2 separate regions of the Homo sapiens genome follow, and region 2 is reported to be linked to region 1. Evidence: microRNA targets listed by miRTarBase, many of them from high-throughput screens and not tested one by one. Region 1 holds a microRNA gene; the other region holds the end of a gene's coding sequence.
Evidence for each region. Region 1 holds the annotated microRNA hsa-miR-8088 (CCUCGGUACUGGAAAGGGGUA, at 1,954-1,974, shown strand). A microRNA usually pairs through its seed, bases 2 to 8, with sites in the 3' UTR of a target mRNA and lowers its output. Matches are read on the target gene's strand: a 7mer-m8 pairs with bases 2 to 8, a 7mer-A1 pairs with bases 2 to 7 and ends in A, and an 8mer does both.

Region 1 (4,405 bases):
TAATACTACTTAATAAACTCATATATATATGTGTATATATATATATATATATATATACACATATATATATATATACATACACATATATATATATATACACACATATATATATATATATATATTCTATTAGTTTTGTCCCTCTAGAGAACCCTGACTAATACAACTCCCTTTGAACTCCAAGTTTATTTTTACAGAGAGCTTGCCCTGCTACTGATGATGTATTGACTTGTATTTGGTAATCCCTTCCATTTTGAGTTTCTTTATCTGTTAGTCAATTTCCTTCAAACATTTCAAATGAATTTGAATTCTACAAGAGAAAGTACAAATCCTAAAGACTTCCCTTTATGATCTGGATTTACTATGGGAATCCTTATGTCAACATGAAAGATAAAGAAAATAAAAGAGTGTTCTGTTCCAGCCTTGGGGGTGTAGAAGGCATGGAGACAGTGTCAGATGGAGGTAAGAGACTCTCATCACAGTCTCTCTTCTATGGGCCTTATCTTACATGTGACAGGTGTGTCAGAGAAGTGGAAGGGAGTCCCAAATAAAGAGATTTTTTGCCCAGCTGAAATTTAGGACTCAGTTTACTTCTGCAGAAATAAATAGCAAGATCCTTGGTTAGAGAAATGGCTGGAGTTCAAGAATTTCAGTTTTTGGAGCTGATCTTTGTTCCTGCAGGGCGCTACATTCTCTGAGAAGGGAATGTGGAAGTGGCTGATTCAAGAGCCAGGAGTGTTACCATGAAGCAAGCATAACCCAGATAGGTGCTAGGTGACCCTGCAGCTGAGGCTGTGCTATGGACAGCCCTGCCCAGATGTGGGAAGGAGGATGAGGCCCCGATTCAGAGGGGTCTGCTGATGCCAGCACAGGTGGGCTGAGGCTGAGTCAGCCAGGGAGCACCAGATCCTGACCAAAATGAGAGAGACAAAAATGCAAGTTACACCAGCCAGAGAAATGGGTGAGCAAATCAGCATCGTCAGCAGAACCTGAGAGAGAAGATTGAGCCTTCCCTCATAAACAACTAAGGACACTGCAGTCAACATAAGATGTCATAGGCCCCTTCCCATATCACCATGAAGACTCGAAAGCCATACACACCATTAATCGTCTTGGAAAGGAGTAGGGAGGTGGGGTGGAAATCTGAGAGACTGATCATTTTCAGCAAAACAGGCTGAGCATTTATACAAATGGACCATTCACATGATAGCATCAGCTGACACCAGATTAGACATAACTCCAGTATTTTCTCACCTTACTGTCCAGTACAGAGGTTATGCACTCATAATGAAAATCAAATCAGCCTTAGCAAGTAAATGCACCAGACCCCCGTCTGGTCTGAGAAGCACGAATTAATTTGTGGTCTCTGCATACCATCTCTTCCAGCTCCCCCTCTGCCCACTGTCTTATCAGTCAGTGGAAGAGGGGATTGGGACATCCTTGCCTCTTCTTCTCCTTTAACCCAGGACAATTTTAACCTGCTATATATTGACCCTGACAACAGAGCACAGAAAGAGAAGACCAGAAGAGAGACACACAGAGTGGAGTTACTGATGAGAGTTATTGCTGAGGTGAGCAGGGCCTCCTCAAGGCTTGCAGCTGCCCTCCACTAGTGATTCCAGGCTCCACTGCCCTTTGCCAACACAGGCCTCATTTCCCATGGTCTGAGCCCTGGAGCTTAGAGTCAGAAAATGTTCGCAGCTCTGTGTACTGCTGGGGAAATTCATAGAACCACATGTTAGAACCACTGCACTTTCATAGTCATCTCCTAGGGTCTCAGTGCCCAGGAGCAGGCTTTCTTGGCATCTCTGGTCCCTCCCCTAGTCCCTTCTGTGGGGACCCCAAGATTTCACCTCTCTCCTCGAACCCTCTACCACATATCTATCCCCTCACTCTTAGCCACATCACATTCCCATTCTCACCTGAGATCCAAGCAGGCAGGGGGAGGGAGGAGGGCCTCGGTACTGGAAAGGGGTATGGATTCTGTTGTTTTGGCAACATTCTTCTTATCGGCACTGGGTCACTCAGCTCAGATCCATAGTTGGTTACCTGAGAATCTGAAGCCTAATCCATCTGACTCCAGAGAATAACAAACAAAGGAGTGGAAACTAAGACAGGATGTATCAAGGGAGGCCACCCACAGACATGGAATCGTGACTCTCAATAGATGTGTTTGTCACAAGGGTCCTTGAACATGCAGAGACACGTGTACACATGTGTACTCAGGAGCACTCATTGCTCCCTAGAGGATCACAGTGACTGTGGCATAAGTCCCAAATGTGTACATTGGGGACGCCTGGGATGAGGCGGGAATGTAGGCACATGGTAGATCATGAAAGATGAAGAGGCAAGATTTGTCTTTTAAAAATTATTACCTACCCTTTCTTTCAAGGCTGATTTTGACATTTGCATTACAGTTAGAGCCTCATGCACAACTATTTATTTAGAGTAAACTCTATACTAAATCTGTCTCACCTGAGAGATGAAGCCCCATTTCTTTTAAAAAGTCATAATAGTGCTGCAGTGAACATACGCGTGCATGTATCTTTGTAATAGAATGATTTATATTCCTTTTGGTATATACCCAGTAATGGGATTGCTGGGTCATATGGTATTTCTGGTTCTAGATCAGTGAGGAATCACCATAGGCTTAATACCTAGGTGATGGGTTGATAGGTGCAGCAAACCACCGTGTCACACGTTTACCTATGTAACGAACCTGCACATCCTGTACATGTACCCCAGAACTTAAAATAAAAATGAAAATTAAAAAAATAAAATGAAAACTAAAAACTGTAATATTACATTGCTGGCTCTTCTGATTTTGTTATCTTGTGTAGTTGCTCTTGAGTTCAGCGGATGCTGAAATGACAACTCTTGAACACCAGAGTAAGAGGTGGGTTGAACATGTTGCTTTTCATTTATAGTAGCTTAGGTCCAAAAAAGAAGATAGACCTAGATAAATAGGGACGGAAATGTACTCACTGATATTAGGAAATGAATGAATAGATGGAGAGATGGTGGTCCAATACACGGAAGTCTTAACCTACATATGAGAATTCATCCCCAAATTGTACTTTTTCAAGCAAAACTTTAGTTATTATTCTTCCTGCTGTGTGATGCATATTGAGTTAAGAAGCACTACTCAAGTGGGTATGTGGCATTTACATCATTTGTATATTTTCTAGTGCTCGGATGTTGGTCAGTGAGGAGAATTCCAGTGATTCGGCAGCCAAATAGATGCATTAAAAGCATCATGCAACTGCAAGCTTTTATTTATGAGCTGGTGATAAACATGTCACACAATGCCTAAAGGTGGCATTCGGGCCCGGAGGAGGTCACAGAGAACCATAGTGTTAAAATTAGGAAGAAGGTCCCTTTAGAGAGTCCGTTGATCTGCCTTATAGAATGATGCTGAGGCTTTTTAATGGAGTATGGCCTATTGAAGCTCTTAAAGTATATTTCTTGGATGGATAGATGGATAGAGTCATGATTGCATGCATGGCTGGATGGAGAGATGGATGGATGGACTTAAACAAGATTGTGCAGTGTCTGTGAGAGTTTCTTTGCTGATATAAAGGTATTTGTGTGATTGGCATAATAGAGGGAAGCCTGAGATCTTTCAGTGCAGACTTTTTAATGGTAACAACCACTGCAGGGATGATAGATTCAGCTAGGATTCAGACCCCTGGTCTTCCCTTGGTAATGACAATGTTACAGAGGGATCTGTATAAAATAGGCAGGCAGCACAAGTAAGTGGTCTTTTGCTTTGGAGTCATCTACCTCACAAGATACTGTTGGGAGATTAAACAAATCAAGGTATTAAAGTGTTCCCAGCACATACTAAATACTCAGTAATGTTCATTTCCAGTGTTACTTTTTGTGGTGCCTTAGAAGACCAAGGATTTGTACCTATTAAGATGAGTAGGAGTGTCAGTAGTCACATGACCATGCTCATTACATCTACAGATATTAGTATTGTAGCAGATTATATATTTTTTTCCATGTTTCAATTGTTGCTCATAATTTCTGGTCTTCAGTGAAGCCCTCCACTGCCGCTTTTTAATAACACATTAATTTTCAATAAAATCATCATTTGAGTGACTTATAACTCCAAGCAGAATCTATTGCACTCAGACCACCAACTTGTTATAACTTCCAATTCAATTGTACACTCCATAAAATACAGTGAGGAAACAGGCTAAAGAAAAATCACAAGATCATATCAATAGATGCAGAAAAAGTGTAGACAAAATCCAACATCTACTTATGATTAAAACTCTAATACAGCTAGAAACAGAGGGGAACTTCTTCAGCTTGATAAAGAACATCTGTAGAAACCCTACAGCTTACATTATTCTTAATGGTGAGACACTAGAAGCTTTCCTGCTAATATCAGGAAAAAAAG
Region 2 (4,325 bases), not on the chromosome of region 1:
GATATTTTAATGTATCACTGATCAGGCAGTTGGACTTAATTCAAGTTTGAATAATTGACTGTAATAACATTCAAGTCAAATACAGTAATGTACATATTTTATATAAAACATTGTAATTTTATGTAAAATAAAATATACCTAGGCTGGGTGTGATGATTCACACCTGTAATCCTAGTGCTTTGGGAGGCTTGAGGCAGAAGGATTGCTTAAGGCCAGGAGTTCAAGAACAGCCTAGGCAACATAGCAAGGCTCCTGTCTCTACAAACTAACTAAATAAAATAAATTAGCCAGGCATGGTGGTGTGTGCTTTTACTCCTAGCTACTTGGGAGGCTGAGGTGGGAAGATTGCTTGAGCCTAGGAATTCAAGACTACAGTGAGCTATGATCCCACCTCTGTACTCCAATATGGAAGACAAAACAAGACCGTATCTCTCTCTCTCTCTCTCTCTATATATATATATATGTGTGTGTGTATACGTATATATATACACACACACACACACACACACATGCACACTCCCTCTGTCCTGTGGCTCCTCTCTCAAGGAATTGCAATGTTCTTCACCCAGTGGATGGGGAAAGTGACATTGGAGAGCCCATCAGTTTCTTAACTGCCTTGCCTTGAAAGACATGCATCACTCCCACTAACATCCCCTGGGTAAGGGCTAGTGACATGCCCTGTCCTGATGCAGAAAGGAGCTGGGACACACAGCCTCTAAACAAGCAGCTGCTTCTCAGAGGCAACACTACTCCATGGAACGCATTGTCAAATCTGGTGAAACATCTGCCTTTAGTCAAATTCCCTTGGCCTCGGACTCCTCTTCTCTTCTTGACTATCCTCAAAATCCCACTCATCTTTGAAAGCTCGGCTCACAAGCCATCTTATGCACAAGGTCTTCCCAGATCTCTCTGCTGGGTACATTGTGCTTCCCCCTATACTTTGCTCATCCCTCCATATGGCCAGGAGCTACTTGTGGACGTGTGTGTCGTCCAGGATAGGGGGCACTTCTCAAGAGTGTGGACTGGAGATCATTTCTTTCTGTTTGTCCCACATCATCTAGAATAGCATTGCACACTCACACCAATATTCCCTCAGCTATTCTGAGAAGTGTTATGAGAATTTAAGCACTTGATTGTTAAGTATATGAAATTCCTCAGGACATATGATGTTGACCAATCAACAAGCATTTAATTGTCTGTTATGCAAACCCAGTTTCTGTATTTAGGAAGCTTATAATCTAATTTGGCAGGAAGTCAATAGAAGGTTAAATTGTAAGATTGCTGGCCAGGCATGGTGGCTCACGCCTGTAATCCCAGCACTTTGGGAGGCCAAGGCGGGCAGGTCACAAGGTCAGGAGTTCAAGACCATCCTGGCTAACACGGTGCAAACCCATCTCTACTAAAAATACAAAAAAAAAAAAAAATTAGCCAGGTGTAGTGGCAGGCGCCTGTAGTCCTAGCTACTTGGGAGGCTGAGACAGGAGAATGGCTTGAGCCCAGGAGGTGGAGCTTGCAGAGAGACGAGATCACGCCACCACAGGGAGAGACTCCGTCTCAAAAAAAAAAAAAAAAAAAAAAAACAGAAAGATTGCTAAACCGAGAATAACCCATTTTTAAAAATAAGGCCGGGCGTGGTGGCTCACACCTGTAATCCCAGCACTTTGGAAGGCAAAGGTGGGTGGATCCCTTGAGCTCAGGAGTTTGAAACCAGCCTGGGCAACATGGCAAACACTGTCTCTACAAAAAATACAAAAAATTAGCCTGGTGTGTTGACGCACGCCTGTAGTCCCAGCTACTTGTGAAGCTGAGGTGGGAGAATTGCTTGAGCCCAGGAGGCAGAGATTGCAGTGAGCCAACATCGCACCTCTGCACTCCAGTGTGGGTGACAGTGAGACCTGTCTCTAAATAAAGTAAATAAAACAAAAAAGAAGAAGACACTATTTAAACTATTGGGGTACTTATGACAAGACCTTCAGCAAACTTGTATTTAACAACCTGGAAACTGGCAACATCTGAGGACTGAAGCCCTGCTGTATGGACCACGTATACATCAGACATTGTCAGTGAGTAAATAATATACCTCAAAACATCTTTATATTTTTTTCAAATATGAACATTCTAATTTTATGAGTTATGAAAATCATTTAACTTTAACCATAAGGGATTTCTCCATAATTTACCTACAGGCCCCCAAAATGGGGATGAATAAACAGCATGTATTTTTTATATATATATAATATATGTATATATATATACATATGTGTGTGTGTGTATAACATACATGTGTGTATATTATATATATGCACACACATTATTTATATGTTTGTGTGTATGTGTGTGTATAGCTATACCCACATTACATAGTGACCATCTCTCTATAATACATAGTTTATTGCAAAGTAATATGGTATAATTATATTTCTATGTAGTGCAATGTCACAGCCTCTACTCATCTTAAAGGAGAATGCTCAAATGGGCTGTCCTTTTATACAATTCACTAGGTGTAACATTAATTATAAATATTTATATTAATTAATATTACCAATAAAGGAGCTACAAGTAGTGATAAATTATATTGGGAGGAGGAGGAGGGATGGTGGGAAGAGGTAGATGAAACATATCCTTATTTGTTACAGCAGGAAGTCAATAGTTAAATTACAAAATTGATAAACCAAGAAATAACTATGTACAATTATTATTGAAGAAAATCAACTACCAGAAACACTAAAACCAAATGATTAAAAGTGATTATCTCTGTGATCAGAACCATGTTTAGCCTCCTGTTCAATTAGATTTTTAAAACTATGTATTTATTTTTTATTTAAAAATAATGCAGTATAAATTAATAATTGTCTTACAATTTTGAACAAATGTTACTGAATTTATAATTACTATTTTGTCATTGCATATTTTCATTTATGAATATTAAAAATAAACACTATTATGTAAAGACCTAAAATTTTGGTGAAAAAGTGATTTTCATATTTGAAATATAGTGGGAGATAGAATAATAGAAAATGTAAAGAAAGACTATTAGTAAAATTGATGATTTTTCTTTTTTTCACTGTTTAAGAAATTTTTATTAAAGCAAGAATTTTATAATCCAAACCATGTTTCCTTGCTCAGTTATCAATTCTGTTACTTAAAACAGAATGGACATTTTGAGCTATTCCACAGTAAAGAATTAAAAAATTAAAGGAATGCTTTAAATTTTTGTACTTTGCTGAAAATTCTTTTCCCAGGGTCTACAAAACATTAACTGGTTTTTGTATTTTACGATTTTTTGTTTTTAAATCAAAATTAAGTAATCTTTTTTTTGTTTTTAAATCAATAAGTAATCTAGGACTAGCATTATATTTGCTAGACCTTGCATTTGCTCGGTACATAAGGTTCAAAGTTTCCTTTCCATTTTTTATTTTAGATTTTGCATTTTTTATTTTAGATTTTGCAATTTTTTTTCCCATAGTTTCTCGATGTTTAGATATTTTTCTTCGGTGAAGCACAAATTTCTTTTCGTGGTCTCTGATCAATTTTAAACAGTTGGAACACCGGTAGCACTGTTAACTGCTTTCTGGGTAGCCTCTTTAGCTTGGTGGGCTTGTAGTACAGCTACAGCTTCATCAACCTTAGAACGGAGTGACTCTGGAGACTCGAGCATATAAAGAAGTTCTGAATTATCAATCTCCAACAACATGCCAGTGATTTTCCCAGCAAGAGTAGGGTGCATGGCTTGAATAAGAGGAAAGAGCCGTTCACCTAACATTTGCTTTTGCTTTTGAGGAGGGGCAGATGCCAACCTGGAGGCAGTCAAAGTTTCCTGACCTTGTACATGAACAGCAAGCTGTTGCATTGTAACTTGTGGCTGTGCATTACGATGTTGCTGAGGATTGCGAACTCCCGCAGCATATTTATACCGTGGAACCGTGCGCACAGCAGGGGTAGCTGCAGCAGCAGCAGCAGCTGCAGGACGTGGACCCACTGTCTGTGTTGATGTGTTAGCAACACGCTGCGTTGACATGACTCGTGGAACCTGTGAAGAAGCTGGTCTCATAGTACTAAATGGTACTCTAGGAGCACCTGGGCGGATAGCACTGGGCTTATTTTGGAATGGATGAGGTCTGGCACCCTGAGCAGTCCAGCGAGGACTTGGTCTTAGTCGAGCAATTTGGCTAGGAGGATAGTATGCAGCATGGTTCTGAGTCTGTGGGACAGCTGTCATGAAGTAACCTGAAGGAGGTGCTCGCTGGTTGGGCACAGCTCGTACACTTGCCATTCTCTGCATATACTCGTTAGTGAGGTAAGCCTGGCGCTCTTCTTTGCGCTGA

Region 2: miRTarBase lists PABPC3 as a target of hsa-miR-8088. Seed matches in the 3' UTR shown: 7mer-m8 at 3,377-3,383.

Annotation. Positions count from the first base shown.
Region 1 is chrX:52,334,181-52,338,585 of GRCh38, reverse strand. MIR8088 (microRNA 8088) reads left to right here and starts at 1,944; the gene lies at 1,944-2,029.
Region 2 is chr13:25,097,302-25,101,626 of GRCh38, reverse strand. It overlaps PABPC3 (poly(A) binding protein cytoplasmic 3), which reads right to left. Exons shown (of 1, transcript NM_030979.3): 1 at 2,373-4,325. The coding sequence ends at 3,533. The region is part of intron 1 of LOC124900613 (a long non-coding RNA gene); the gene reads right to left. Among named protein-coding and RNA genes, the nearest start is that of PABPC3, 3.3 kb to the right of the region's middle.